Linked DNA regions of Homo sapiens: regions 1, 3, 4 and 5 are each linked to region 2. The links come from fine-mapping of genetic effects on gene expression. A gene starts in region 2. Each other region holds a variant in brackets. All regions are shown on one strand. Distances are between the middles of the regions.

The links. PIP is the estimated chance that this variant, and not a neighbour inherited with it, causes the effect.
Region 1: its variant is fine-mapped to the expression of MYCL in whole blood (INTERVAL, PIP above 0.99).
Region 3: its variant is fine-mapped to the expression of MYCL in whole blood (TOPMed, PIP above 0.99). The same link has a PIP of 0.9 or more in blood mononuclear cells.
Region 4: its variant is fine-mapped to the expression of MYCL in whole blood (TOPMed, PIP above 0.99).
Region 5: its variant is fine-mapped to the expression of MYCL in whole blood (TOPMed, PIP above 0.99).

Annotation. Positions count from the first base shown.
Region 1 is chr1:39,870,675-39,875,776 of GRCh38, reverse strand. All of the region lies in intron 1 of TRIT1 (tRNA isopentenyltransferase 1), which reads left to right. Among named protein-coding and RNA genes, the nearest start is that of MYCL-AS1, 9.9 kb to the left of the region's middle. The variant C/T (reference allele first, on the strand shown) is at 2,585.
Region 2 is chr1:39,899,482-39,904,569 of GRCh38, reverse strand. It overlaps MYCL (MYCL proto-oncogene, bHLH transcription factor), which reads left to right and starts at 2,653. Exons shown (of 2, transcript NM_001033081.3): 1 at 2,653-3,631. The coding sequence starts at 3,136. RefSeq lists silencers at 2,080-2,289, 2,550-2,869, 3,280-3,399.
Region 3 is chr1:39,830,637-39,835,738 of GRCh38, reverse strand. It overlaps LOC105378667 (a long non-coding RNA gene), which reads right to left. Exons shown (of 4, transcript XR_947221.3): 3 at 3,682-3,768. Among named protein-coding and RNA genes, the nearest start is that of LINC02811, 16 kb to the right of the region's middle. The variant TTC/C (reference allele first, on the strand shown) is at 1,949.
Region 4 is chr1:39,781,594-39,786,695 of GRCh38, reverse strand. All of the region lies in intron 1 of BMP8B (bone morphogenetic protein 8b), which reads left to right. Among named protein-coding and RNA genes, the nearest start is that of BMP8B-AS1, 4.2 kb to the right of the region's middle. The variant A/G (reference allele first, on the strand shown) is at 3,099.
Region 5 is chr1:39,817,321-39,822,422 of GRCh38, reverse strand. It overlaps LINC02811 (long intergenic non-protein coding RNA 2811), which reads left to right and starts at 4,963. Exons shown (of 4, transcript NR_186710.1): 1 at 4,963-5,102. RefSeq lists enhancers at 4,667-4,836, 4,685-5,102. The variant A/G (reference allele first, on the strand shown) is at 2,035.

The sequences.
Region 1 (5,102 bases), 29 kb after region 2:
CCATCCCATTCTTTTCCTCTGTACCACTGTGTACATTTTATCAAGCAGAAAAGTGGGAAGAATAATATTACTGACAAAAGAACAGTATGGGCAAAGTTAAGAAAATGCATGGTATGTTTTCAAGGAATGACCAGCAACTATCTGGCATAGAGGGTACTTGAGGGACAGTGGTAGGAGGTAAAACTAAAAATATAGACCCTGGGAACAAATTTTTGAGGCCCTCAAAAGTCATGCCATGAGGTTTGAGGTTTTAAAGAGGGAAGTGGTAGTAAGTCTATTTTTTTTTTTCAAGACAGAGTCTCGCTCTGTCACCCAGGCTGGAGTGCAGTGGCGCAATCTCAGCTCACTGCAACCTCCACCTCCCGGGTTCAAGCAAGTCTCCTGCCTTAGCCTCCTGAGTAGCTGGGATTACAGACGCATGCCACCACGCCTGGCTAATTTTTGTATTTTTGGTAGAGACAGGGTTTCACCATGTTGGTCAGGCTGGTCTCGAACTCCTGACCTCGTGATCTGCCCACCTCGGGCTCCCAAAGGGTTGGAATTACAGGCGTGAGCCACTGCACCTGGCCTGTAAATCTATTTTATGAAGTAACTGGGTGGAGAGTGGGTTAGAGAAGGAAAAACAGTTTAGGATTCTGTTACATTAGTCTGGGTGAGAGAGGCTGGAGTTGGGCTTTGGCTGGAGAGAATAGGTAACCATTTTGATATTTTGTAAACAGAACCAACAGGATTTTGGTTATTGAATTGGAAGCACTATGAAAAAAATGAGAACAAAGCATTTTTGTGTTCAGAAAAATGAGACATGCGGGGGCCGGGCACAGTGGCTCACGCCTATAATTCCAGCACTTTGGGAGGCTGAGGCGGGCAGATCACCTGAGGTCAGGAGCTCGAGACCAGCCTGACCAACATGGAGAAACCCTATCTCCACTAAAAATACAAAAAAATTAGTCAAGCATGGTGGTGCATGCCTGTAATCTCAGCTACTCAGGAGACTAAGGCAGGAGAATCACTTGAACCCAGGAGGCGGAGGTTGCAGTGAGCCGAGATCACGCCATTGCACTCCAGCCTGGGCAACAAGAGCGAAACTCCATCTCAAAAAAAAAAAGAAAAGAAAAATGAGACATGCTTATTAAAAAAATCCAATAATACTGAAAAGTACAGAGACAATTTAACCATAGTCTTAGCATCCTGGAGTAATGATTTTGGTTCACATCCTTCCAGACATTTGTATATATATTTAAGCACATGTGTCATGTGTGTATATGTTATTACATAAATTGACTCAGAGGTTAGATACTATTCTATTTTCTTTTAACACTATGTTATGGATATCTTTATATGTTAATGTATATAGCTATATCAGTAGTCTCAACTTGGGGTGATTTGGCCTCCTAGGGGACGTTTGGCAATCCCTGGAGACATTTTTGGTTCTAATAACTGGGGAGGTGGGTTCCTGGCATCTAATGGGTAGAGGCCAGAGACATTGCTAACATTCTAGTAGGCACAGGACAACTTCCCATAACAGAATTATTTGGCCCCAAATATTAATTGTACTAAAGTTAAGAAACTGTCCTATATTATTGTTTTTATAATTTTTTATTGATTGATTGATTGAGACACGGTCTTACTGTGTTACCCAGGCTGGTTTCAAACTCCTGGGCTCAAGCAGTCGTCCCACTTCACCTTCCAAGTAGCTGAGATTACAGGTTTAATTTTGATTTTGAAATAGTTGTAGATTTTTATTTTTATTTTTATTTTTTTGAGACAGAGTTTCGCTCTTGTTGCCCAGGCTGGAGTGCAATGGTGTGATCTCGGCTCACTGCAGCCTCCATCCCCCGGGTTCAAGCAATTCTCCTGCCCCAGCCTCCTGGGACTACAGGCATACGCCACCATAACCAGCTAATTTTGTATTTTTAGTAGAGATGGGGTTTCTCCATGTGGGTCAGGCTGGTCTCGAACTCCCGACCTCAGGTGATCCATCCGTCTCTGCCTCCCAAAGTGCTGGGATTACAGGTGTGAGACACTGTGCCTGGCCCGAAATAGTTGTAGATTTACACAAGAGTTTCAAAGATAGTACCAAGAGTTCCTGTATACCCTTCATCTACCTTGTCCTAATATTAATATCTTACATCATCATGGTACATTTATTAAAACTAAGAAATTGATATAGGTACAATACTATTAACTAAATTATAGTCTTGGATTTCACCAGTTTTTTCACTTATGTCCCTTTTCCATTTCAGGATTCAATTTAGGATACTATACTGCAGTTAGTCATCATGTATCTTTAGTGTCCTCCAATCTTTGACAGTTTTCAGTCTTTCCTTGTCTTTTACGACCTTGATACTTTTGAAGGGTACTGGTCAGCTCTTTTGTAGATGTCTCTCCATTTGGGTTTTGGTTTCTCATGATTAGACTTGGCATTATGGATTTTGGGAAAGTATACCACAGAAGTGAAGTACCCTTCTCATTGGATCATATCAAAGTATGATATCAACATAGTATTAGCATGGCTTATTACTGGTGATGGTAACTTTGATCATTTGGTTGAGATTGTATACACGTTTCTCCACTGAAAAAGTCA[C/T]GATTTTTCTCTTTTTGTGTTATTTTTCTTTTCCATTTCCATAAAATGACAGTACCTAGTCTTATTTGTTGGAAATCATTTGCCAAGTCTGGCCCACACTGAATAGAAGGAGAATTAAGCTTCATTTCCAGGATGAAAGCTTATCAAATAATTTGCGGACATATGTTAAAAGCACCACAGTAATTAATAAATATTTTAGGGGAGATACCCTCAGGCTATGCAGATGTCCTATTTCTCCTTAAAGTTTCACCCTCTGATTTTAGCATTCATCAGAGTCTTTCTTTTCTTTCTTTCTTTTTGTTTTCTTCCTTTCTTCCTTTTCCTTCCTTTTCCTTCCCCTCCCTCACTTCTTCCCTTCTTCCCTCCCTCCCTCCCTCCCTTCCTTCCTTTCTCTCTCTTTCTCTCTCTCTCTGTGTGTGTGTGTGTGTGTGTGTGTGTGTTTAGTACTTCCTGTCTGGTATTACAAGATGCTTCTAGTCCCTTTCAGTGGAAAGAGCTAGGAAATGTATGTATGTATATTAATCTATATATACACACATTTATATTTATTTCTCTATCTGTATGTATATTAAAATAAGCATGGGTTTATACTGGTATCTCTGACTAATCCAGCACCACAAGATTCATTCTAGTCTTCCCCCCTTGCTTATTTGTGACTTCTTTCTCAGAGTAAGAAATTTAGCTCTCATTCCCTATAGTATATTTACTTATTTGTGTAACCTGTAGTTTCAGTGATTACTCCTGTGAGAAACAGATTTACCAACTAGAGTACAATGTTTGCCTACAGTTTGTTTGTTTGTTTTTATCCTTACAGTATCGAGTAGTAACATTGTTTTATGAAGTTACTTAGATCAGCTCCTTTTGTTTTCCTCTCTGAGGTTATATCAGACGTTTGTAATGCAGTTAGATTTCATTTGTTACAGTCTGTAGTCTATCCTGGGTTCCCAGATATTCTGGTTATTTTAAAAAATTTGCATACAGTGGCCAGCTGCAGTGGTTCACACCTCTAATCCAAGCACTTTGGGATGCCAAGGAGGGAAGATTGCTTGAGCCTAGAAGTTTGAGATCAGCTTGGGTAACATAGTGAGAGCCCATCTCTACAAAAAAAAAAAAAAAAAAAAAAATTAGTCAGGCCTGGTAGCACATACCTGTAGTCCCAATTTCTCCTGGCTCAAGCAGGAGGATGGCTTGAGCCAGGGAGGTCAAGGCTGCAGTGAGTCATGATGGTGCCACTGCACTCTAGCCTGGACAACAAAGCAAGACTCTGTCCCAAAAAAACATTTTTAAAAATTTTTTGCATACATATAGTAAAGTGTACTCTTTATGATGTTTAGTTCTATGGGTTTTGACAGATGCATAGAGTCAGATATATACCCCACAGTACCATACTGAACAGTTCTATCACCCTAAAAAATCCCTTATAGTGGCCCCTTTGTAGTCAACCCCTCTATCTCCTTCAATCTCTGGCAACAACTTACCTGTTTTCCATCCCTATTGTTTTGCCTTTTCCAGAATGTCTTAAAATGTAATCATACAATATGTAGCCTTTGAGGTTTGGCTTTTTTCACTTAGCAAAATACATTTTTTTAAAAGGTAGATTGATTGATTGATTGGAGACAGGGTCTCATTCTGTTGCCCAGGGTGGGGTGCAGTGGCGCCATCTCGGCTCACTGCAGCCTCAACTTCCTGGGCTCAAGCAATCCTCCTACCTCAGCACCCCAAGTAGCTGGGACTATAGGCCTGTGCCACCACACCTGGCTCATTTTTGTATTTTTTGTAGAGACGGTTTCACCACGTTGCCCAGGCTGGTCTGGAACTCCTGAGCTCAAGCAATCCACCTGCCTCAGGCTCCGATTATAGGCGTGAGCCACTGCACCTGGCCAGCAAAATACGTTTAAAATTCTTCCATGTTGTTGCATGCGTCCAATGCTCTTTATTGCTGAGTAGTATTCCACTGTTTGGATGTACCATAGTTTGTCTAGTCACCTTTTTTTTTTATGAGACGGAGTTTCTCCCTTGTTGCCCAGGCTGGGGTGCAGTGGTGCAATCTTGGCTTACTGCAACCTCCGCCTCCCGGGTTCAAATGATTCTCCTGCCTCAGCCTCCCGAATAGCTGAGATTACAGGCATGTGCGACCACGCCCAGCTAATTTTGTATTTTTAGTAGAGACATAGTTTCTCCATATTGGTCAGGCTGGTCTTGAACTCCTGATCTCAGGTGATCCGCCCTCCTCAGCCTCCTAAAGTGCTGGGATTACAGGCGTGAGCTACCGCGCCTGGTGTCTATTCACCTATTAAAGGACATCTGGGTTTCTGGTTTTTGGTGATTATAAAGAAAGCTATTGTAAACATTCATGTACAGGTTTTAGTGTGAAATTTCATTTGAGTAAATACCTAAGAGTGGGATTGCTAGGCTGTTTGGTAACTTTATGGTTTAACTTTACAGGAGACTACCAAACTGTTTTCTAAAATGACTGTACCATTTTGTATTTCTCCCAGTAGTGAATGAGAATTCGTGT
Region 2 (5,088 bases):
TTGCGCCACTGCACTCTAGCCTGGGCAACAGAGTGAGACTTGTCTTAAAGGAAAAAAAAAAAAAACGCAAAAACTAAAACATTAGAGTTTTGTGTTCAGTCATATACTCAGCACCCATGATGTGCCAGGCTTTGTTCTAAAGCCCTGGGGTACAGCCATGAATAAGGCTGACATTTGTCTGCCCTCATTCAGTTTACAGTCTGACGAGGAAGACATTAAACAAACAAAAGTATGCAAAGTGAAGAAGCAGTGTTAACTCTCAGAAGACAACTTAATTTCCTTTTTCCTACTTCTTGAGGAGGGGCAGCACCTCCTGGTTGCCCCCATATATCATCTACAATGAAACCATGGGAAGAGCTGCAGGGTGGGGGCTGTAGTCTAGGTAAAGAAGGCCCATTCTCCAAACATAAATTTCCAGCCTCCCTTGAGGTCTATACCACCAATTATTCCAATAAAGTCATTTTCTGCTTACATTTGTCTAAGGTTGGTTTTTTGTTTGTTTGTTTTGTTTTGTTTTTTTGTTTTGAGACAGAGTCTCGCTCTGTCGCCCAGGCTGGAGTGCAATGGCGCAATCTCGGCTCACTGTGAGCTCCGCCTCCCGGGTTCACGCCATTCTCCTGCCTCAGCCTCCTGAGTAGCTGGGACTACAGGTGCCCACCACGACACCCGGCTAATTTTCTTGTATTTTTAGTAGAGATGGGGTTTCACCGTGTTAGCCAGGATGGTCTCGATCTCCTGACCTTGTGATCTGCCCGCCTCAGCCTCCCAAAGTGCTGGGATTACAGGCGTGAGCCACTGTGCCCTGCCTAAGGTTGGTTTTTGTTATTTGTAACCAATAACCCAGACTAGTACAGCAACCATCTCAGACATCTGTGGACCAGAGAAAAGTCACTAAAGGACAATCCAATGCCTGTGCCTTGGGGCTGCAACCAAACCTGGAACCCTTCTGATTTGTGTCTTCCGTTTAGCACAAAGCAGGGCACACAAGCTGTCTCAGTGAAATCTGGTTAGCTGAGTCCCTCAGTAAGTCAGTTAGTTCACAAATGTCTGCCAGAAGCTGTTCTAGGTGCAGAAATCACAAAGCAAGTAGGAGCAGGTTTCTGCCTTCAAGATGTCCCACATGCAGCACAGACCCAACGTATCTAAAACGGAAGGCTGTCATTTTCCCTGCCTTCCCAACCCATATAACAACACACATCCGTGTCCCATGCTCCAACCACACTGAATTGCTTGCCCTTCTCACTTCCGTCTGCCAACAGTGAGTAGTTTGGTGTTCTTAGACCACAGGGGTGGGAGGGAAAGAGAGAGACAGCAGACAATCAGGCTGGGGTAGACAGACACCAGACCTTGATGCCAGGTGGAGGAATCTAGATGTATTGGCTGCTGTCCCAAGTTACTCTCCTCTGGCCTAAATCTCAGACTGGCCGTATAGTTTAATTTTTTCTCTTCCACCAAAGGTCATCTGTGTAGAAGATGACACAAAGGGGGACCCAGCACGGTGACCCGTGCCTGTAATCCCTGCACTTTCGGAGGCTAAGGAGGGAGGATCATTTGAGCCCAGGAGTTCGAGGCTGCAGCGAGTCATGATCGAGCCACTGCACTCCAGCCTTGACGCTGAGTGAGACCCTGTCTCTTAACAAAATATATTTAAAATTTAAAAAGAAGATTATACAAAGGGGTTATCTATCATCTTGGCCAGCAATGCAGGGCAAAACTTGAAACAACTTGGTCCTGCAGTATTTTCCAGATGCCAAATCCTCATTCTCTACTGTACAGCTCCTACAGTGTTTTGTGTGAGATGAGAGGGAGCATGGCGGGTCTCAGCTGGCTTTGCCCTGGGAAAAATTCCTCATTTCTGCACCGCCTCCCCAAAGCGGGGGCTAAGCCAGCGCCGTCTGCCTCTCCACCTAGACCAGACCCCTTCCCTAGATGCTCTTATTTCCCTGAAGCCTCACAACAACCCTGTGAGGTAAGCATTACCATCCCTTCATTTTACAGATGAAACTGAAGCTCAGGAAGGTTACGTTTCGGGCTCTAAATCCCGGAATCTTCGCTTCGATGCCATCCAGGCTTGGGCCACTGAGCTCAAGAAACGGGCCGACGGGTGACCAGACGGACGCCGGGACCAGCCCAAGTTCAGGGCTGAGGGCCGCCAGGTGGCGCGTTTCCCTCCCCCTACCCCTCGCGGCGGCTCGGGCGCACCTGAACCCAGCGGGGTGCGCCGGGGAAAGTAGGCGCGCAGGGTGGGGCGGGGAGTAGCCCTAATTCCCCAGCTCGGAGTGGGCAAGGAGCACGGTTTAGCTCAGCCGGCTGGCACCGCCAAGCGGCCGCCGGGCCGCATCAGCCCTCCTCCTGTTTGCGCTCCCCAGCGTGCAATTTATTTGGGGGGCTACCGGGGATTGAACGGAGCGGGCGAGCGCTGCCAGGAGGTGGGGCCGGCCCCACCTGTCGACTGCCCGTAGTAGGCAGGGAGAGGGCGGGGTTTGTCCCATAGGGCCCGCCCCCCAGTCCCTGGGTCCCGGGCGCGCGACGAGATATAAGGCAGTCAGGAAACAATGCGCCTGCAGCTCGCGCTCCCGCGCCGATCCCGAGAGCGTCCGGGCCGCCGTGCGCGAGCGAGGGAGGGCGCGCGCGCGGGGGGGGCGCGCTTGTGAGTGCGGGCCGCGCTCTCGGCGGCGCGCATGTGCGTGTGTGCTGGCTGCCGGGCTGCCCCGAGCCGGCGGGGAGCCGGTCCGCTCCAGGTGGCGGGCGGCTGGAGCGAGGTGAGGCTGCGGGTGGCCAGGGCACGGGCGCGGGTCCCGCGGTGCGGGCTGGCTGCAGGCTGCCTTCTGGGCACGGCGCGCCCCCGCCCGGCCCCGCCGGGCCCTGGGAGCTGCGCTCCGGGCGGCGCTGGCAAAGTTTGCTTTGAACTCGCTGCCCACAGTCGGGTCCGCGCGCTGCGATTGGCTTCCCCTACCACTCTGACCCGGGGCCCGGCTTCCCGGGACGCGAGGACTGGGCGCAGGCTGCAAGCTGGTGGGGTTGGGGAGGAACGAGAGCCCGGCAGCCGACTGTGCCGAGGGACCCGGGGACACCTCCTTCGCCCGGCCGGCACCCGGTCAGCACGTCCCCCCTTCCCTCCCGCAGGGAGCGGACATGGACTACGACTCGTACCAGCACTATTTCTACGACTATGACTGCGGGGAGGATTTCTACCGCTCCACGGCGCCCAGCGAGGACATCTGGAAGAAATTCGAGCTGGTGCCATCGCCCCCCACGTCGCCGCCCTGGGGCTTGGGTCCCGGCGCAGGGGACCCGGCCCCCGGGATTGGTCCCCCGGAGCCGTGGCCCGGAGGGTGCACCGGAGACGAAGCGGAATCCCGGGGCCACTCGAAAGGCTGGGGCAGGAACTACGCCTCCATCATACGCCGTGACTGCATGTGGAGCGGCTTCTCGGCCCGGGAACGGCTGGAGAGAGCTGTGAGCGACCGGCTCGCTCCTGGCGCGCCCCGGGGGAACCCGCCCAAGGCGTCCGCCGCCCCGGACTGCACTCCCAGCCTCGAAGCCGGCAACCCGGCGCCCGCCGCCCCCTGTCCGCTGGGCGAACCCAAGACCCAGGCCTGCTCCGGGTCCGAGAGCCCAAGCGACTCGGGTAAGGACCTCCCCGAGCCATCCAAGAGGGGGCCACCCCATGGGTGGCCAAAGCTCTGCCCCTGCCTGAGGTCAGGCATTGGCTCTTCTCAAGCTCTTGGGCCATCTCCGCCTCTCTTTGGCTGAAGCTGCCCGTGTAGTCCCCAACCGTGTCTGTCTGGCACGTGGGTGTGTTGGTAAACAGTTTGGAAAAGTGGCGTGGGAGCCAGCCTCCCTTTGATGATTATTGGAGCCCCAGGGGACAAGGGATTTGAGGTGAGGGTTGGCGCTTAGAGAGGACAATACTGGGGTTGGACTGTAAGGGATTGAAGGGGGTACCTTAAGAGACACTCCAAACCTGAAGTTTTTTTGCTGCTGCCTCTTTCCCTAGGAAACTCACACTCCCCTAGGGGGAGAAGAAGCCGAGAGCCTTTTGTGCAAAGCCAAAACCTTCGTCCTTTTAAAAACCTAGGTCTCCAGTTGGCTTTACTTTAAAATGCCAATAATAAATGCCCTCTTCTCGTGCCTCCCCACCACCACTTACCACTCGTGCATCCCTGAGACAGGGAGGGAAGAATGAACACTCCCCATTAACAGATGGAAAAACTGAGGCTTAGAGATAGACAATCACTACAAGTCAGCTCCAGCTTTCTGCCATCTAGCCAGCCCCTCTTCCCCAATGCTCCATCCCAACCAGGCACCTCTTCCTTGATGTTTGGGGTCTTTGTGGTAGCTTATCTTAGAAGCACTACACCTTGCCTTGCTGTTTGTCCTGAGATGGAAAAGTGTCCTTCTTGCTCCCCCTCAATAGATCTCCAGCGTCAGCTGCTCCCTGGCATTCAACAAATATTCACTGGCCCCTACTTTGTGGCAATCTGTGGGCTACATGCTGGGGTCAAGGCAGTAGAACTCCAGGCCCTCCTCTCCCATCCTTGATGCAAGTGCAACCTCGCTGAGGGCAGACTGGGGCATCCTGTGCCACTAAACTACATTGTTCTTATTCTGGCATCTTAGACCTCCACACCCGTGAGAAATCCTGGAGAGGGTATTTTTGTAGAGTGTAGACTGTGGCTAGTGACAAATAAATTAGGACCAAGAAAGCTCACTGTAGCTTTTAGGAATAACTTTTACACGACCATTTGATAGGGAACTGGGGAATGGGGTATGGAAGTTTTCCTACACTTGAGAGAAAAAATAGGATAACAAAAATTAAAAGTCTTTTTTTTCCTGGTCCACTGTGTTAAGGTCATTTTTAACCAGCTTGCTTTCTACACCAAGAGTTTATGTTTGTTTAATGGCTGGAAAGAGAATCTTGAGATCAAAAAACCAATAAAGATGTATCTCTACAACGGCTGGTGGAGTGGTAGAGTGGAAAGAGCATTGCTTTGGAAGTTGGACATTTTAGTTTGAGATCCAGAACGTTACAAAGGTGATATGTGGACTTCGCTGATCTGGGCCTCAGTTTCCCCATTTGCACAC
Region 3 (5,102 bases), 69 kb after region 2:
AACCACAACCCTCTACTTCTGCAAGGGCATTTCTTTAGGGTTTTTGAATGTACAAATTTAGGGTTTTTGAATGTACAAATTATTTATATCCCATCTACTTCTAAGAAAGAATCAAAGGAAGAAAAGGTTAAAAAAAAAAAAAAGAAAAGACTGAAGAACTAACTCTTGTACAAAGATGTTTATGGCAAGAATCATGGTTGCAAATGAAACAACTCTAACTTAAGTAAAAAGGTGGATTTATGATTGGGTTAATGAGGTGTCTCATCAAATTCAAGGGCAGGAAAGTATCTAGGCTCCAGCCACAACTTGTACTACCCAATCTGAGGCTTTAGAGACTTTCTCTTTTCTCTGCAAATCAGCTCACTCCTCTCTCACTGTAAACAGGCTTTCTCTACATGGCAGGAGACAGGGCTGCTAGTAGCACCTGTGTTTCACCTCTTATGGCCTTGACAACTGGGGACAGATTGTGCGGATGTTTTCTCTGGTTCTAAGTTCAAAAGCCCTAGGACACCCCGTACCCATTAGAATGGCTGCTATAAAACAAAACAAAACAAATTAACCCAGAAGATAACAAGTGTTGGCAAGAATGTGAAAAAATTGGAACCCTTTGCACTGTTGGTGAGAATGTAAAATAGTACAGCTGCTGTGGAAAATAGTATGGCAGTTCCTCAGAAAATTAAAAAGGGAACCGCCATATGATCCAGCAGTCCCCCCTCTGGGGATATATCCCAAAGACCTGAAAGCAGGGTCTCAGGGAGATACACCCTTGTTCTGCATAGCAGCGTTCTTTACAATAGCCAAGGGGTAGAAGCAGCCCAGTTGTCCATCAAGAGTGAATCTAGGCCGGGTGTGGTGGTGCACACCTGTAATCCCAGCACTTTGGGAGGCTGAGGCGGGTGGATCACCTGGGGTCAGGAGTTCGAGACCAGTCTGGCCAACATAGTGAAACCCTGTCTCTACTAGAAATACAAAAATCAGCTGGGTGTGGCGCAGGCCTGTAATCCCAGCTACTTGGGAGGCTGAGGCAGGAGAATCACTCGAACCCAGGAGGTGGAGGTTGCAATGAACCGAGATCACGCCACTGTGCTCCAGCCTGGGCGACAGAGTGAGACTACATCTCAAAAAAAAAAAAAAAAAAAAAAGTGAATCTAAGGGCTGCACATGGTGGCTTGTGCCTGTTATCCCAGCACTTTGGGAGGCCAAGGCAGGAGGATCGCTTGAGCCCAGGAGTTCAAGACCAGCCTGGGCAACACAGTAAGAGCCCATCTCTACAAAAAATAAACAGATTAGCTGGGTGTGATGGTGTGTGCCTGTAGTCCCAACTACTTAAGAGGCTGAGGTGGGAGGATCACTTAAGCCCAAGAGGTCAAGGCTGCAGTGAGCTGTGATTGTGTCACCGCACTCCAGATCCTGGGTGACAGAATGAGGCAGACCCTATCTCAAAAATAAATAAGAGTGAGTGGATAAACAAAATGTAAGTACATATGATGGAATATTCACCCTTAGCAAGGAAGGAAGTTCTGACGCATGCTACAACTTTGAGGACATTATGCTGCATGAAAGCCAGTCAGGCCGGGCGCAGTGGCTCATGCCACATTGGGAGGCTGAGGTGGGAGGATTGCTTGAGCCTGGAGTTTTGAGACCAGCCTGGGCAACAGAATGAGACCCACCTCTACAAAAATAAAAGAATTATTACCCAGCACTCGGGGATGAGAGGTGAGATGATGCTTGAGCCCGGGAGGGCAAGGCTGCAGTGAGCCTTGGCGCCACTGCACTCCAGCGTGGGCAGCAAAGCAAAAAAAAAAAAAAAAAAAGCCAGTCACCAAAAGACAAATATGGTATAGTTCCACTTACATGAGGTATCTAGAATAGTCAAATTCATAGAAACAGTATGGTGTTGGCTGGGGGTGGAGGGAAGGGTAAATGGAGAAGTTTAATGGGATAGAGT[TTC/C]AGTTTTGTAAGATGCAAAAGTTCTGGAAATTAGTTGCACAACAATGTGAATATGCTTAACACCACTGAACTATACGCTTAAAACTACTTAATACACTTTCATACTGTAATACACTTAACATTACTGAACTATAAGCTTAAAAGTGAATTTTACCACCATTTTTTAAAAGTAAAAGTCCCAGGAAAGGGATCTTTTAGCCCAGCTTGAGTCTAGTGCTTATCCTGAGGCCCATCAGCCAGTCTGGAGATGGATTCCTGAAAGGACAGGACAGTTCCCATGGAAAGGATGGAGTGGAGGTGGAGTGATTCCCAGAGGAGAAGGGTGAGCGGGTTGGTAGGAGGGGAGGGCACCTGGGCAGACAAGCATTTGTGTCCACTGTGGAGTTGCTGTCTGCTAGTCAGTAAGACACTTGGTTTTCTAGCAGCAGGGCTGAGCTTAACTAAGTCCATATGCCTTCTGGGTGGTACTTGCCATTATCTTCATCATGAGATATCTGTAGTAGTCATTCCTTAGAAATTTATGGCCCAGTATGGTTTTAACAAAACTACATATCTTGTTAGTATTTGCCAAAAACATTTGAGGTCGTTTCTACAAATGAAGAAACAGACTCACAGTATTTCAGTGACTTAACACAGGGTTGGTGTTAGTTCAGTTGTAAGGGATTGAAAGCCAGTTTAAACTAATTTAGGTATAAAAGACGATTTGTTGGCTTATGGAATCTAAAAGTCAAACAACTGAGCTTCTCCTGAAAGGACAGGCAAGGTGCAGCTGGGCCTCAGGAACAATTGCTCCCAAGGACTCAGACACTACCAGCACTGCCTCATCTCTTCTCAGCGTGCCGATTTCACGTTTCTCTCCATGCAAACCAGCTTTCTTCACGTGGTCGTGGTCATTGGAAGCTGCCACACCTCACATCTTACAGCTTTTCTTCACTGAAAAGAAGTGGACCAAATCCCAAGTTTAAAAGCCCCAGGAAAAGACGCAATTGAGTAGAGCTGAATTCTGTTGTCTACCCTTGGATTAAGAAGGACAGCGTACCATCTAAGAACATGGCCCTCCCTGTAGAACAGTATGATAGAATGAAGCCAGGGAACACGAGAGTTTTCAGGAAGAGGGCAGGGATGGGATTGGTGCTGAGTAGACCAAATAATAGGTGTCCATAGCAGTGACACAGAGTAGGTGGCAGATGAGAGAACTCCAGGTCCTCTGACTACAACCCTGACTAGCGCACCGTAACTACCGAGTACTTCCCATGCAAAAGGAAGGCCCTATCTCTGCAAGAACCGTGCATGGTGCATTATCAAGTGTGAGGCTGGGGTCAGACTCTGAGTCACCAGAAGTGAAGTGACAAATGACCTGAAAGCAAGGCATAAAGGAAAACCATTTAAGTCTGTGCCTTCTGCCTGAGCCTCCTTGTTAATATGAAGGGGATCGAGGTATAAAGACTTTTTATATTTTTGAGACAGGGTCTCACTCTGTCACCCAGGTTGGAGTGCAGTGGCACTCCTGGGCGCAGGTGATCCTCCCATCTTAGCCTAGGGAGGTTGGGACCACAGGCACCTGCCACCATGCCCAGGTAATTTTGTTTTTTTGTAGAAATGAGGTTTTGCCATGTTGCCCAGGCTGGTCTTGACCTCCTGGTCTCAAGCGATGCTCCCGTCTTGACCTCCCAAAGTGCTGGGATTATAGGTGTGAGCCACTGTGTCCGGCTCCAAGGTATAAAGACTTACATAGAAGTTATTTGTGGATTCAAAAATGTCTCTGTGTCTTGCTGGATCTGCATAATGAAGTCAAGTTGCTTGGAGACTGGTGGGTTCCTGATGGCAGACAAAAGTGTCAGCTTACTCTCTCTGAACTTTGGCAGTCAGACTCTTCAAGTGCTTTTTAGAAACTACCTTCTTTTTTTTTTTTTTTTTTTTTTTTTGAGATGGACTCTCTCTGTCGCCCAGGCTGGAGTGCAATGGCGCGATCTCGGTTCACTGCAACCTCCGGCTAATTTTTGTACTTTTAGTAGAGATGGGGTTTCGCCATGTTGGCCAGGCTGGTTTCGAACTCCTGAAATCTCAGGTGATCCACCCGTCTTGGCCTCCCAAAATGCTGGGATTATAGGCGTGAGCCACCGTGCCCGGCAAAACTACCTTCTTACTACATTCGTGGCTTTCTGTTGTTTTAAATATCAGCATGTAAAGGGTGCAGAGAATTCGGTGATCATGTTTCAGTTGTTTTCAAACTTGTTTTTAGCTGTGGATCCTTTTTTTTTTTTCCTTCTCCCAAGTCATACATGAATTGCAATATATAATATATACTGAACTAGACTGGCTTCAGGTCTGGGTAGGGTGCACAGTCTTCTGGTCCCTCTGATTTAGTGCCCACCCCCTTCCCCGCCCCCCGGCTGTGGGACACACTTTGAAAATCTCTGATCCAGATTAGCCACATAATTGAGCAGACAGAGAAAGTGAGTCCCAGAGAGGTTAAGTAAGTCACCAACAGCAACACAAAGAGTTAGTAAGTAGCAGAGCTATGCCTGGAACCCTGGTCTCCTGGTTTAGCAGTAGTGTTCTTTTTACTGGATTATGCCACTTCTAGTTATTTTGAATTAAAAAGTAGTTGTATTTTTCATCAGGTACGTGGTAAGTTGAACCAGTTCTGGACTAATATGAAGGCAAGTAGAGGACTTTAGGAGTCAAACAGCTTTATAATTAGGAATACCTATTAATTCAACAGACTTAAATGAGTGCTTATCATTCACTATTCTAGGTGCTAGAGATATATCAGTGAACAAGACAGTTCCTGTCTTCAGAGAGCTGGAGTCTTGCATGCTATCCCAGTGAATATGATAAATGCTGTAATAGAGTCGTTTAGGGAATACACAAGATTTTACCTGACTCGTTCTAGAAGAGTCTGGGAAGGCTTTCCTGAGGAAATGGCATCTGAAAAAACATGAGGCCTGGCACCAAGGCTCACGCCTGTAATCCCAGCACTTTGGGAGGCTGAGGTGAGGGGATCGTTTGAGGTCAGGAGTTCGAGACCAGGCATGGTGGCATGTGCCTGTAGTCCCAGCAACTCACGAGGCTGAGGCAGGGGGATTGCTTGAGCCCAGGAGGCAGAGGTTGCAGTGAGCCAAAATCAGCCACTGCACTCCAGCTTGGGC
Region 4 (5,102 bases), 120 kb after region 2:
TGGGGCTCTGTCATCAGGACAGGCTGACACTGGGCTCAGGACCAAGAAGAGTTGTGGATGGAGTCGTCCAAGAATGTCCCCAGGGAGCCGCCCATCAGAATGCGTCACCACCCAGCCCACATCCGACCTCCCCTGGCATCCCCTGGGTCAAGGCATGCACAGCCTGGTGGGGCTATTGCTATGAATTGGGCAGGGCCTACCCCTCTGTGTGACCTTAGGAAAGTTCCTCACCCTCTCAGCCTTCGTTGCTCCTTGTAAAATGAGGTGCCTGGTGATCTGTCCTCAGGGTTGTTGTGTGATTGGTAGAGGGGCAGGAGTAGAAAGCCTGTGCTGCTCCCCTCAGAGGGTGAACCTGGACCTGGGCACTGTTGGCCCCAGGCCCTCCCAGCTGTGGCCTAGTTCGGAGGTGACAGGAACATCTCCACATGTCTTATACACATGTAAAACCTAGAAATGGATTCTAAAAGCCAATCAAAAAGTGTTTGTACCTGTTTTTAGAATGAAAAGTAGCATGTGAACTTTCACAGCCTTACAATTCCTCATTTAACTCATGTGAGACTGTTTTGCCAGCCCTGTTTCATGGGCTCAGAGAGGTTAAATAGCCAGCCCAGGGCCACACCGCACATCCGGGGTGACATCCACGGCTGTGGATTTCAAATCCCAGCTTCTTCCCACACCAGCTTTGTGCATTTCATGAAGACTTGGGGCCTCCAGCGCTGCGAGATTAACAAGCAGATCATTGTTAGTGGAAGCCCAGGCTGTGGGTGGGCGCAGCCAGCTGTCAGAAAGGCCTTCTTTATTCTGCTGTGCTAACTGCACTAGTAGAACTCTCTCAGTTAGAGTAGCTTTAACTGGTAATTACTGAGGCTGGGTGGGGCGGTGGGGGGGCATGGATTAGACACATACCAGGATGCTCTCCATGTTTGGAGGCCCCTGGAGGTTGGTGGCCCTTCTCCTGCCTCAGCCTCCCGAGTAGCTGAGATTACAGTCATGTGGGCAGAGGCCACCACGGGATCTAATAGCAGGGTCACTGTGGTGTCACCGCCCACACGCAGGCTCCCACACCTGCTCCTGCCGGCTCCACCTCTCCTATCAGCTTCATCTGACTCCTGAATAGCCAGGTCTGGTGCCCGTAGGGCCCAACTCTTGATGGCAGCCTGTGGGACCCAGGGGGCGGGGCTCTCATAGGCCTCCCACCATGGCTCAGGTCTCCGTGCAGAGCAGGTGCTTTAGGAAGCCAAGCCTGCGTCCTGATGTTCAGAGCCTGCACTGGGAGGCCAGGGCTGGGGTCAGAGCCGGGGCCCTGCCTGGCCTGTCATCCATATCAGCCTGTAGACCTGGGCTCTCTTGGGCAGGACAGTGATGGAGCGGTTGGATTCTGTCCCTGGTCTCTCTGTGCTCAGGGAGGGGAGAGCCCTGAGCTGGGAGGCAGGACCCAGGTTCTTGTGCTGCCTGGGCCCACCATTAACTCCTGCATGTCCTGAGCCACGGCCCTTCCCTTCCCTGGGCCTCTGCTTTCTCGTCCATTCTACGGTGATGGCATCAGAAAAGCAAGGTGCCTCCCAGCCCTGACCCTGTGGCTCTGTGGCAGAGGCGCCTTCTCACAACACCGCCATGCCTTGGCCCCAGTGCCTCAGGGCAGCCCGGCCCCTCCTGAGGGAGGAAGGATGGCAGGAAGGACCACCTCTGCACACTCCTTCTGAATCCTTCTCCACCCATCTCAGCAGAGAGGCAGGTGCCCATGTTCCAGATTGAGAAACTGAGGCATAAGCAGGCCTAGCAGGCAGAAGTCCAGCCAGGATCAGAATGCAGGCAGCTTCATTTTTGTCCTGATCCCTTCCTGAACCAGACAGATTTGCTCCTGTGGTCTCCGGTGGCCATGGACAGGGGTGTTGATGAACAGAGCCGTCTGGATTTGGGAGAAGCAGGACTGAGTGGGAATTCGGGACCTGGCCCGGGTCCTGCTCTGCCCTTGCCAGCCGTGTGACCTAGAAGGGTGGCACCATCTCCGTGGGCCCCAGGGCCACTTCCTTTGGTTCTTTACCAGGGACCTCTTTCATTTTCCCATTCATTCATTCAGCAAATAGTTCTGTAGCACCTACCACGGACCAGGCAGAGTTCTAGTTGCTGGGGATATAACAATGAGAGAAGTAAAGTCCCTGCCCTCAGGGAGATGACTTTCTAGTCTAGAGACACATAATACATACATGAGCCCTAAAGGTAATTGTCGGGTGTGCTAGACAGCAACGCCCCATCGGGAAACAGGAGGGGCTGAACAATGGCAGGACAGACAGGGCTAGATTGGGGGTTTCTGACCTGAGACCCACACACAAGGAATTTGCATCCTGACGCCAACACCTGATCTCAGTGTGATCTGGGCTTTCCAGTCAACCTCCCCAAGCCTCAGTTTCCTCCTCTGTAAAATGGAGATACTCATCTTATGGGGCTGTTGTGGGCTTGTGTGAGATGATACCCAGCGATGCCCACGTGCCCAGAACCTCTGCATCTCTTCCTTCATTGGTATCTCACAATTGCCGTCACATCTGTGTTTGAAAGAGAGGAGAGAGAGGCTCAGAGCAGATAGGTGGTTTTCCTAAGGCCACACAGCAGATTGTCCCCCTGCCTCCACATCTTCTGCTCTTCTCCAAAATAGCAGCTGCCTCTCCACACAGCCCAGGGCCTGGCCCACCGTTAAATGCAGTGTGTGCTGCTGAAATGGACTGTGTTGAATGGGAACGTGTGATGTAAACTGAGACTACTGCTTAAAAAATATGTTTTTATTTTCAGAGACAGGGTCTTGCTCTTTCACCCAGACTGGAATGCAGTGGCATGGTCATAGCTCACTGCAACTGCAAACTCCTGGCCTCAAGCAATGTTCTCACCTCAGCCTCCTGAATGGCTAGAACTACAGGTGTGCACCACCATGTCCAACTAATTGCTTCAAATCTTTTGTAGAGGCGGGATCTCATTATATTGCCCAGGCTGGTCTCAAACTCCTGGCCTCATCTGATCCTCCTGCCTCAGCCTCCCAAAGTGCTGGGATTACAGGCATGAACCACTGTGCCCAGCGTTTTCTTTTCTTTCTTTTTTTTAACTGC[A/G]TACGTTAATGCTCACTGTTTTGCAACTTTGTTGTTTTTCATTTAACAATAAATCTTTTATCCATCTTAAAAGTCAACTATTAGGGTGACTGTATGCCCAAAGGTATTTGTCCTTGCAATAATTGAAGGTGGGTCCCTTTTCCCCAAAGTTCTGTCTGGCCACCAGAATGGTGCACCCTTTCCATCCCTAGTGACTGGTCCTACCCATTTCCGCAGTGTTTTCTCACCCCTGAGTAAATGATTATGACTGCCCTCATTCACAGAGGAGGAAGCTGAGTCTCAAAGAGTGTAAGTGACTGGCCCCGGGTCCTGGATGCACAGACCCACAGGAGCAGATATGAAAGGTAGATCACAGCTGTAGGAGGGTAGGCCCTGGAAGTGGGGCAGCAGAGTGGTGGTTAGTGACCCTGGAGTGGGGCTCACTGGCTTTCAATTCTGAGTCTACTGCTTAAGAGCTATGAGCTGTTGAACAGATCATTTAAAGTCTCGGCATCTCAGTTTCCTCATCTTTAAAACTGGGATAATAATGCCTGTATCCGGCCAGGTGTGGTGGTGTGCGGATCACTTGAGGTCAGGAGTTCAAGACCAGCCTGGCCAACATGGTGAAACCTTGTCTCTACTAAAAATGCAAAAAAAATTAGCCAGGCATGGTGGCGCGGGACTGTAGTCCTAACTACTCAGGCGGCTGAGGCGAGAGAATTGCTGGAACCTGGGAGATGGAGGTTGCCTGGGAGACAGAGCAAGACTCTGTCTAAATAATAATAATAATGCCTGTATCATAATACAATGATTAAATAGGTTAAGGCACATAAAAACCTAGCAAGTGTCTGGCCAGGCACGGAAGCTCACGTCTGTAATCCCAGCACTTTGGGAGGCCAAGCGGGGGCGGATCACCTGAGGTCAGGAGTTAAAGACAAGCCTGGACAACATGGTGAAACCCCGTCTCTACTAAAAATACAAAAATTAGCCGGCTGTGGTGGCAGGCGCCTGTAATCCCAGCTACTTGGGAGGCTGAGGCAGGAGAATTGCTTGAATCCAAGAGGTGGAGGTTGCAGTGAGCCGAGATCGCGCCATTGCACTCCAGCCTGAGCAACAGGAGCGAAATGCCATCTCAAAAAAAAACAAAAACAAAAACAAAGCAAGTGTCTGGCACTGCTCAATAAGTGGCTGTATTATGAGGGAAGGGCCTGCGGATTATGCCCCATCCCCCAGTCATTTACTTAGGGACCTAGAGCAGAGTAGTAAAAAGCATAGCTCCAGAATCTGACCAGGCTGCCTGGGTGAGATCCTCATTCCACCTAGGCATCCTTGTAGTGGATGCTGTGGGGGGCTTCCCAGAGCTTCTCTTCAGCATTGAGTCGCTCGTGACCCAGCTGCCTGGAGTGCCGGCTGCTGACAGCTCACAGGGGAGTCCTTCTCTAGGTTTTTTTTGTTTTTTTTTTTTTTGAGATGGAGTTTTGCTCTTGTCACCCATGCTGGAGTGCAATGGTGCGATCTTGGCTCACTGCAACCTCCTTGGGTTCAAGCAATTCTTCTGTCTCACCCTCCCAAGTAGCTGGGATTACAGGCACCCGCCACCACGCACGGCTAATTTTGTATTTTTAGTAGAGATGGGGTTTCATCATGTTAGTCAGGCTGATCCTGAACTCCTGACCTCAGGTGATCCACCCACCTCAGCCTCCCAAAGTGCTGGGATTACAGGCGAGAGCCACCACGCCCTACCCTTCTCTAGGTATTGATTGACTGGGCCTAAAGAACTGCCCAAGGTTAGGCACCATCCCTGGGGACACCCACCATCCAACAGCTGGTCTATGGCAGTACCAGTGCCCAGCCCCCTTGCCTTAAAGAGAGACAGCTCTAAAGGGCCACCAGCCCCCAGAGCTCCCAGTGTGGTCTCAGTTGTCTGAGGCCTTTGTTGTGGGTGCATCCAAAACTTGCTCCCTTCATTCACTACAAAAAGCAGTAAACTTTCCAGTTTTCCCAGTAAACTTTCCGACCCAGTGT
Region 5 (5,102 bases), 82 kb after region 2:
CATTTAGTTTTTCAACTTCCAAACTAGACCTCAATGTGGTCACCCGCATGAATAATTTTGAAAGCCAAGTGCTCAGCTTTATGGAGAGAAAGGATTTTGAGAACCCAAAGAATGACCCTGAAGGAGGCAGAGTGTAAAGTTAATGCCTTAGAAGTGAGCTGGAAGGAGCCTAGAGGCGTGTCTGCCCCATCCTGCTCACAGGGAGGCTCGTTAGGGATAGCTCATGCTTGGAATAGGGACACGAGTTGATTTTGGAAGAGATCAGAGTGGCCTGAAATGGAAGCAAAGATGTGGAGAGGAGCAAAGTCAGCCTCAAGAGATGCCCAGCAGCAGGGCCGGTGCGTTACAGCAGCCGAGCAATACCAGTAAGCATCCGTGGCCTCCAGTTAGCACAGCCGTCACCCGAGCTGAGGAGCCACAGTCACCGTCCTGCTCCTCACTTGCTGGGAAATTTTTCTTTTTCTTTTTCTTTTTTTTTTTTTTTTTGAGCCCGAGTCTTGCTCTGTCACCCAGGCTGGAGTGCAGTGGCACGATCTCAGCTCACTGCAACCTCTGCCTCCCAGGTTCAAGTGATTCTTCTGCCTCAGTCTCCCAAGCAGCTGGGATTACAGGCACGCACCACCTCGCCCAGCTAAATTTTTTTTTCTTTTTTTTTTTTTAAGTAGAGATGGGATTTCACCATGTTGGCCAGGCTGGTCTCAAACTCCTGGCCTCAGATGATCCGCCTGCCTTGGCCTCCCAAAGCGTTGGGATTATAGGCACCAGCCAAGTTTTTCTTTTGTCAGCTGCACACTGTTGCCCTTCAATCACCCAGCGGAGGTGATGCCCGCCCATGCCTGGCCCCTTCAGAACCATTTCCTGTGGACACTCACTTTTTCTTTTCTTTTCTTTTCTTTTCTTTTCCTTTCTTCTCTTCTCTTTTCTTTCTTCCCCCTCCCCTCCCCTCCCCTTCCCTTCTTTTTCTTTCCTTTTCTTTTTTTGAGACAGAGTCTCGTTCTGTCAACCAGGCTGGAGTGTGATGGCACCATCTTGGCTCACTGCAATCTCCACCTCCCAGGTTCAAGGATTCTCCTGCCTCAGCATCCAAGTAGCTGGGATTACAGGTGCACGCCACTATGCCCAGCTATTTTTTGTATTTTTAGTAGAGACAGGGTTTCTCTATGTTGACCAGGCTGGTCTTGAACTCCTGACCTCAGGTGAGGTCCTTGAACTCCTGACCTCACCCGCCTCAGCATCCCAAAGTGCTGGGATTACAGGCATGAGCCACTGCGCCTGGCCTGGACGCTCACTTTTCATAACAGCTCAGGAGTCTTGTAAACTTCATGAAGAGTGGGATCTTGACACTGTCAATGCTGTGGGAAACAAAGTCTCTAGCACCTGAGTTTGGGAGAAACCAGACATGGAGACGATCCGTTTCACATGACCACATGCCAAGCCAGACTGAGCCTCTGCGGAGGCAGCAAGCACTGAGTTGGATTCATCTCTGTATCCTGAGCACATGGCTGGTACTTGGTGATTACTGTATTGAGAGAATGAATGAAAATCACAGTCTAGTGAGGAAAACAGACACATAAACAATTTTAAGACACCCTGAGTGCTGTGACAAGGGACTATAGCAATCACAGAGTGAACAGAAGAGGAAAAGGGCCCAGCGACACTGGGGATCTCCTGCAGTGACACCAGGACTAGCACACTGGTTTCTTTGCTGCCCAGAGCACCATTGGAGTAGATGCCCCTGGGGATGCCTGCCCAGCCTATAGGCTCTCCCTCGGCACCACGGGACTGGTCCCTGGCGGCCCCTCAGCCATGGGCTGTGGGTGCATGACCCAAATTGGGCAATGGGTTCCCTGTCCCACAATCTTGCTGTTGGGATTCAGAGAAGCCAGTGTGCTTCCTCTGGTTACTTGACCTGAGACCTGAGAGCCAGCCATGTTTGGCCATGAGAGAACTGGGGGAAGTCGTGCTGCTCAGAGGTATAAGAGTGAAGCAGATGTGCAGAAAGAGGGTGGATAGGAGACAGTGAGGCCCAGAGAC[A/G]GAGAGGAGCTTCCGGGCTTCTCATTCTTCAGATCCTGGTTCTCAGGCCTCTTGAGGTCTGGCTGCCCCTACCCTCGGGTTCCATGTGCCATCTCTGAAGACGTGATTAAAAGCTCTCAGCTGGAGCTTGCCTGAGTGAATTTCTGTTCTGTGCCACTGATTCTTGGTTAGCATTGTTCCCACTGATGGTCACCATCACGCTCAAGATCACAGCAGACATTTCCATAGCCCTCACCACGTGCAAGACTGTTCTGAGAGCTTTACATGTAACGACCCATTAAATCCTCGTAATAGTCCCATGAGGTAGGACAACTATCATCCCCATTTTTACATTTTCTTCTTCTTTTGTCCTCGCTTTTCAATAAAGAGATGGAGCTAAAGAGAAGATAAGTAGTAACTTGTTCGTGGACATACAGCTAATAAGTGTATGAGCTCATATTCAGCATTGCAGTTTTATCACATTTTATTGAGCAAAAGTTTGTACATATTTTTTAATTGGAAGAATGCAGTTCTAAATGCCAAGCACCAAGAGGGCCCTGAGTGAGTCCCTTCTCCTGTCTAGGCTCAGGATCCTTGCCAGAAGCATGAGGCCAGGTGGGCTGGGAACCAGCCTGCTCAGCCCGCCCAACACATCCTGCCTCTCACTTTCCCGGGACTGGCAGCGGAAGCGCGGGAAGGAGCTGCTGGGCCGGGTACAGGGCTTGGCGGCAAAGTGGGTTGTGCAGCGGGAGGCCAGAGCCGCGCCCTGGCACCTGGCAGGCAGCCCAGCCCCACCGTTGAGAAAATACCTACAACAAAGGCATCCTCCCACCAACAAAGGCGTCCTCCCACCAACAAAGGCATCCTCCCACCAACAAAGGCGTCTTCCCACCAACAAAGGCGTCCTCCCACCAACAAAGGCGTCCTCCCACCAACAAAGGCGTCCTCCCACCACACTGGCCACCTCTCCTTGTCCCTGCAACTCCTTGGCTGAGGAATCTGACTTCTGGGCCAGGACAGGTTGGGTCCTTACATGGCCTCAGGAGGCTACAGAGAGGCCTTGGGGCCCAGCCTGGAACACCTTCCTGGCTCTCCTGGGTGGACGTCCCAGAGAGTGGTCCTGGTTCACCCCACATTGCATAGACTCCAGGCCAACTGCCACCCGGGCACGGTGCTGCGCTTCCTGAGCCTCCGAACACTGCCATCCTCCTCCATGATGTCCGAGGCAGGTGGCTTCACAGATCTAGGTCCTGGAATCCCCCCAGCCAGGAGCTCCCCCTCAGAGCAGTGGCTTGTCTTATGTGCACTCTGGACACAGGTGTGTCTGTGGTGAACAAGAAATGGCCCTGCAAAGGAATTTGGACATAATCCACAATGGGCGTTTGGGAGAGTCAGTCTGGACTGGGGCCTGGGAGAATGAAAAGTCAGGAGCCCCTGAGACTCCAAGAGTGTTGGCATGGGTCTTGGCGGACATATCTTAAGCAAAGCACTAGAAGCTCCTCTGAGAGGTCCAGCCTCCTGAGGTGGTAGCCCATGGCCAATTCCATCCCTCCTTCTCCTGAGCAACACCTGAGGGCCATGGGTTTGGGGAAAAGACCAGCTTGCTGCAACTCTTTCATTCAAATAGCAACTGGCCCTGGAGCTCCAGGCCAACATCAAGCCTTGCTCCACCCCTGCGCTTTAGGGACTGTTGCCATCAGGGCACTGCCAACCTATGTGGTGCTCATGATGACTCAGAAATAAGAACCTGTTTCCTCTAGGCTGATACAGCCCTGCTCCAGCCCCCAGCAGTGCCAAGTGGAGCAGGGTGTGGACTGGCCTTCAACCCCGCTCACCTCTCCTCTATATGGTCTTGTGCAGACCCATCCTGCACTGTCTTATGCAGGTGCAATGCCTGTTAGGATAATCCCAAACATGACCCTGGGCCCCTGATCCCCAGGCCAAACCCCACCCCCTGACCTGGATATTCCCTGGGCTGACAAAAGGAGTTCGGCCAGGGAAGGCTCCTCTTCACTGGCCCAAACCAGCTTCAGACAGCGGGGCAAGGATGTAGGAGCCTTCTTCCCAGCAGAACCCCCGGCCCTGGAGTGGCCCCAGATGAGGCAGCTCCCATCTGTGTGGGTAGCCCTGAGGCTATCCTGAGGGCAGGATGCTGTGCAGGGGAGGAACGGACCTCCATTATGTGATTCTGGGTGGAAGGTAAACAAACCCTGGTTAGGCAGAGGTGGCACAAGCCCACAGCCTTGGGCTCAGCCTTCTGTCTCCCGAGCTCACTGCTCAGTGCCCAGTCCCAGGAAGCCCACAGGCTCTAGGCCTAGCCTGCCTCAATTTCCATTTGTTCCGCCCCCTCATGCACCTCAGGGCCCAGGGTGGCACCAGTGCCCACCACAGAACCAGGCTCAGAGCACATGTGGCACAAATGCTCATGGGATGAATGACGGACTAAAAGAATCATCCAGGCTGGGTGGGCATGGTGGCTCACGCCTGTAATCCCAGCACTTTGGGAGGCCAAGGCAGGAGGACTTGAGTCCAGGAGTTCAAGACCAGCCTGGGCAACATAGCAAGACCCTATCTCTACAAAAAAATTAAAAATCAGCCAGGTGTGGTGGTGCATGCTTGTAGTCCAGATACTTGGGAAGCTGAGCCCAAGAGGTCAAGTCTGCAGGGAGCCATGATTGCACCACCGCACTCCAGCTTGGGCGACAGAGCAAGACCCTGTCTATAAAAAAGAATCATCCAAAGGAAGAGGGCGCTCCTGAGGCAGGTGTGGGCATGGGCACCGTAGCCCGTAGCCGCAGCTCCTCCACTCCTGGCTTGGGCCTCTAAGCCTCACTTCCTCTCCCGTAGAACACTCATGAGACACACCTGCCTCGTGTGGGCCTGGGCAGCTTGCTGTTACTAATAAAACAGCAGCAACACAGGACAGCTTCACTTCCTGAAACTCCCTCTGTCACGTGCTTTGCATGAATCCTCACACCGTCTCACCAGGGGCGCTCTCCCAGTTTCACCAGTGACTTGGTGACAACCAGCATCGCTCACGAAGCGTCAGCCGTATCCTTTCTGTGTGCAGTGGGGTGTGGGTTGTGTGG